Linked DNA regions of Homo sapiens: region 2 is linked to region 1. A link means that fine-mapping ties the variant in region 1 to the expression of a gene that starts in the linked region. Tissue or cell type: monocytes. Region 1 holds a variant in brackets; the other region holds the start of a gene. All regions are shown on one strand. Distances are from middle to middle.

Region 1 (2,684 bases):
ACTGAGGTCCCTACGAGGACCCCTGGAGCTGACGATCCCCTAGGGTTTCCTAGTTGAGAAGGAGCCGTGCCTCTGCAGCCACACATGGGTCAGGCACTGGCCACAGGCTGTCCCTGGCATGGGGTATAACCCAGTGAGGTAACAGCAGTCCCAGCAGCTTGGCCCTGAAGAGGGGCTCTGGAGCACAGAGTAGTCCCCACAACCCACCCCAAAGCTCAGGCTCACACCAGTGTTTCAGTCAGACGCTGGATGTCCCCACAGGACAGGATCTTTGTCCCCAGCATCTAGCACAGGGCCTGGAGGGGCAGCACAAGCCTCAGCCTGCAAATGGAGGAAGAAGAGGAAGTGTGAAGTGGTGCCCTGTGCCGCATTGTGTGGGCCAGCTGCTCAGCCTCCCCCAGAGGTTCAGAGAGGGCTGGCCACCTGCCTAAGGTCACACAGCTGCTAAGGGCAGAGCCAGGATTGGAACCCAGGACTGGCTGAGTCCAGAGCTTATGGTCTCTCAGCCACATCAGACTGTGAGCTTATTAGAAAGCAAGGGCCGGGGGAAAGGAAAAGAGCTGCTCTTCCCAGTTCCCGGAGCAGGGCACTGGAGCGGGGCCCACCAACTCTGGCCACCTCTGGCCAACCTGCCAGGACCCATGCCCAGGGGAGGGAGCAGCATCTTGCGGGCGGGCAGCCTTTCTTGGGTAATGAGGCCCAGCCGGCAGTTTGCAGGCCTTACCATGTGAATAATTCATTTGCAACCAAGTCTGGGAATTAGAAACCGTTACTGGATGATTTATTTAACAGGGGCTGCTGCTGGGGAGAGGGGAGGAGGATTTTGAACTATAAAAGGGAAGTACATACCTTGTAGATAGATTCAGAGAGTCCCACAGACCTGGGTTTCAGTCCAGGTCTGCCTTCTACCAGCTGTGTGACCTTGAATAAGTGACTGGACCTCTCTGTGCCTCAGTTTTCTTTGTTGCAAAAAGGGGATAATAATAGAGTTGTTAAAAGGATTGAATGAGTTAGAATTTGGAGAGCACTTAGAATCATGCCTGGTTCATAGTAAGTGCTCAGTGTTTGTTGTATGAATACATGACAGCCTATATAGAATAGGAGCTTAATTGAGCATGTACTTTGTGAC[A/G]GGCCCAGTTCTTTTTTTTTTTTTTTTTTGAGACGGAGTCTCGCTCTGACGCCAAGGCTGGAGTGCGGTGGTGTAATCTCGGCTCACTGCAAACTCTGCCTCCAGGGTTCACGCTGTTGCCTCAGCCTTCCGAGTAGCTGGGACTACAGGCACCCGCCACCACGCCTGGCTAATTTTTTGTATTTTTAGTAGAGACCGTGTTAGCCAGGATGATCTCGATCTCCTGACCTCGTGATCCACCCGCCTCGGGCTCCCAAAGTGCTGGGATTACAGGCGTGAGCCATGGCGCCTGGCCGGCAGGCCCTGTTCTAAGAGCTTAACATGCGTTATCTCATAGCACTCATGTAAATTGGATATTATTATTATTGCATCTATATTAGAGATGAGAAAATAGAAGCTCAAGCTGGAGCTCAGACAGCTAGTCCTGGCAAAGCAGGGATCTGAACCCAGCCAAGACTCCCTGACTGCAGGGCCCATGCAGTTAACCACATTCCCATATCACAGATCTGATGCACAGCCTAGCACAGACCTGGCTCTTATTTTAAGAAAAATGTCCCTGTCCCCGCTAAGCATTGCCACTTTCATCATGACATTTGATTCTATTAACAAACCCGACAGGTGGTCAGGGAGCATGTGGTCTCTCTCAGCTGAGGAAGCTGAGGCTCAGAGAAGGACGTGAATCGTTCAATGTCCCACAGCCCCAGATGAAAGCCAGGCCTCCCTGAGGCCTCCTAGCAATGATCACAATGTGTCTTATAACAGCTCAACCCCAGGCATGTCTGCTTACGCCAAGACTGCACTCCTGGAAGGCAGAGGCTGTGTCTTGGTTTTGCCGGATTCACTAAAGGTCCTTATTGAATAGCAGAGGAAGGAAGGAAGAGAGGGAGAGAGGCAGGAAGGGAAGGAGGGAGCAAGGGAGGGAGGTAAGCAGGCTGATATAGTAGGTAAACTGTCTCTTGTCATCTTTATGCTGCTCCTGCCATAGCTCCCCACACACCCCCCCACCCAGTAAAACATACACTGGAACACATGCTCACACGCTCCTGTCCAGGGTGAGGTCAGTGTGGCCCCTGAGCCAGGCTGCCTGGCACGTGGCTGTGAAATCGACCCAGGCACTTCTGAGGGGCCAGGTGTCCTTGGCCTCCCACAGGAGGTGGCACTTTGCCAGACCCTTGCAGAGGGTGGCGGGGTCTCCAGGCCTGTCCCTGGATGTGAGCACAGGGACACGGCAGCTCTGCCCTGTCCACCGGCTGCTGGCGGGCCTCCCGGGCTGTGCAGTGCGCTGGGTACACAGGTGTTTGGGCTTTTATGATTGCATAGGGGTCTGTGTGTCTGTGGATGTGGGACTGGTGTGTTTGTAGATGTGTACTGAGGATATTTTTGAATCTTGTAGGTGTGTTGTGTATCTCTGCACATATTTGCATTTGTGTGGGGGGTGTGTTCTGTGAGGGTTCTGTATCTGGGTATTTCGATTTCGAGTGTTGGGATAGGTGTGTGCGTGTGTGTGTGTGTGGATGTGAATATGTTTGTGTGTATTTGGGTGCTCTGGGGGGCA
Region 2 (2,684 bases), 230 kb before region 1:
TCTTTAGAGGTGAGATTTGTGTAGCCTGTTGATTAACAGTGAAGGCTGCTTGCAGCTAAGAGACACCTGGCCTTGGAGCTCTGGCCACCCAAAGGCTGACAGGATCCGTGTCCACAGCTGCCACCTGAGCCACAGTCCCCAGCAGAGCTGTAGGAAACAGGTGCAGAAACCCATGCTGGCCTTCAGCTCTCCCCGTCCATTTCAAAGCAAAAGTGGCAGCACTGGGACAGACACAAAACTGACACCCAAAACCAATCCTCCGGTCACCTCACAAGTTCATGGTCCTTTCCGTCCTTCAAGAACTTGGGAAAGAATGTCCACGTCTTCCCATGGGCTACAGACTGTGTTCCACAGATGCTGAATCCAACAAGCTCCAACCCTTGCTTAGGTTAAAAATGAACACAAATGGATTAACTTTTTGCCAAGCAAAAGGCCTCAGCATGAACAACCACCCGGTACCTGTGACTCCTGGCTGGAGAGCCCAGCCCGGCGGAAACTCAGAAAGGGTGAAGATGCTGATAGGTCACAAGCCCCTCCCCACTGCCAATGGAGATGCCAGAGTGCTCCAGCACAATGGAGTGTGGCCCACCAAAGCCCCATTTCCTAGCCCGGTGGAGATGGCCCTCGCTCCATTCTACCTCCTCTGTACCCTGTCAGTATCTTCCTCCATTCCCCTGCCTTCCCCCGTCCTGGTCAGAAACACCATTGTTCCCTCTATTGCCCACTGAGCAGTGGTCCAGGAGAAGTACTCCAGCAGGTCCCCCGCCCCCGGATGGGTGCTATTGTTCCTTGGCCCAGGGTTGGGGGCCATCATCTTCCCGTCCCTACCCAATCCGGCAGAGGAGCCTGGCCTGTGAGGAGATGCCATTCCTGCCTCTCCATCCCTCTGCTGCTGCGCTCCATCAGCCTCCCTCACGCCTCGCCTGGCCAATGGCAACAGCCTCTTGCTCATCAGCCTTGCCTCCTGACTCTGGTCCTTGGCTATCCAACTGTCCCAATCGACCCTCTGGAACTCACTATTGTGGACAATGGTCATCATTGAAGGACACACCACCCAGGGCCTTTTAAGAAGTGACTGCAGACTGTGTGTCCCACCTGCCACTTGACTCTGCTCATCCTCTCGGGTCCCACAGCAAGGCCCTTCACACTCCCCAAGTGGGCACACTCTCTCTGTGCATGCATGCCAGGCCCGCCTCTGACTCCCCTCCTGGGGATCCCGTCTGGCTCAGTGGGAAGCCTATCGCTCTTGGTAAATTACTCAGTAAGCACTTCTCTCCTGAGGCCTGGCTCCTCTCCTGCCCTCGGCGGGAGACCTGGGAACGGGCCTGCCAGCGCCCAGCCCAGGGCTGGCAAGGAGGATCCCTAGCAGGGAGGGGGAGACCCACTGAAGCCTTTCTCCCTGCACAGAGGAGGACTCTCATTCTGTTCAAATCCTCTGCACCTCTTTCTTCCCCTCCCTGTACTCTCCATCTGGGTCAATGATTTCACCTTCTACTCAGTTGTCTAAGCTGCAGATTCTGACATTTTCTCCAACTGCTCCTTCTCCCCCATCACAGAGCCTGGTAAGAAGCAGTAGGTGACAGTGAATGGTTTTTCTCAATAAATCTACGTGCCCAAGAAGGGAGACATGGTCTTGGCAGCATCACCAGTCAACATCAGAGTTCGTCCAAACTGACATTCCACAGCATTTCCTCTTTGCCGTCCACACAACCGGCTTCTTGCTTGAACATGCTGGTTACAGGGAGCTCATGTCGCACCTCAGCTGCTCTCTCAAGGCTGCGTCTGTCATCGCGGGAGGTGTATTTTAGCTCAAATTGCCCCACTGGCTTCCCATAATTGTCTTTCACCCTTTGGAACCACATACAACAAATAAATATAATCCCTTAAAAATACCTGGCAGGAGTGCCCACGTTCTCTCCAGGTCTCCTCTTCACCAGCCTTAACCTTCTGGTCCTTCCATCTCATTTCAAGGTGCTTTCAGCTTTCCTGAGTTCCCCAGGTGCCAATTTCCATAGGTTTTTTACCTCCCAGATGATGGCTACCATATTCCTTTAACGTAGCCTCTGCAGGAATGAGGGATTTTTAGAAAGCTGAGACTTCCGAGAAGTCTCATGATGGAAGAATCCAAGGGGATCCCAACACCAGATTGCTCTGGAAAATGTGTTACTGTGACGGTGATCCCATGGGTTAGAGCACATGTTTGAAGGCCGAGCCAGGAACGGAGGATGTGGCCAAAAACCAAAGTGTGGATGAGGCGGAACATAAAACACATACTTCCAACAGCACATCCCCTGTCCTCCTTCCCACCCCTGAGGAGCTCTCCAAGTAGCAATTACTGAATTTGCACTTTATTATAGGGTTCAGTTACAGTATAAAATGATGGTCTGTAGAAATTAACCCCAACTGTGTAGCTGGCAAAAAAGAAAACAAAACAAAAAAACAGGCTGCCTGGCCCAGGGCTGACCAGTTGGTCACCTTGCCCAGTAGCACACTAACAAAGGAACAGAAAAAGAACGAGCCCAGAAAGTCTGGATTTTAGGAGGCTAAGGAAGGATCAGGGAGATGTGGGTTGGTTTTTGCTTGGTTTCAAGGCGCACAGGGGATAGCCCAGAAGCCTACAGGAAAGGTGAGCCGAACACATCACAGAGAGAGAAGCCACTGCTGCCAAGTGGGCTTGGAAGACA

Which allele goes with the higher level. Positions count from the first base shown, and alleles are read on the strand shown. Sizes are in standard deviations (SD) of each study's normalised expression.
For the expression in monocytes of the gene that starts at base 1,442 in region 2, allele G in region 1 goes with a higher level than allele A (large effect, 1.1 SD a copy in Quach 2016).

What was found. PIP is the estimated chance that this variant, and not a neighbour inherited with it, causes the effect. A credible set is the group of variants that fine-mapping cannot tell apart.
Region 2: it holds the start of MIR600HG, and the variant in region 1 is the best candidate, but not a certain one, in a credible set for the expression of MIR600HG in monocytes (Quach 2016, PIP 0.67).

What each region holds. Positions count from the first base shown.
Region 1 is chr9:123,343,957-123,346,640 of GRCh38, forward strand. No RefSeq gene overlaps it. Among named protein-coding and RNA genes, the nearest start is that of CRB2, 11 kb to the right of the region's middle. The variant A/G (reference allele first, on the strand shown) is at 1,130.
Region 2 is chr9:123,114,036-123,116,719 of GRCh38, forward strand. It overlaps MIR600HG (MIR600 host gene), which reads right to left and starts at 1,442. Exons shown (of 1, transcript NR_026677.1): 1 at 1-1,442. It also overlaps a transcript of STRBP not described here.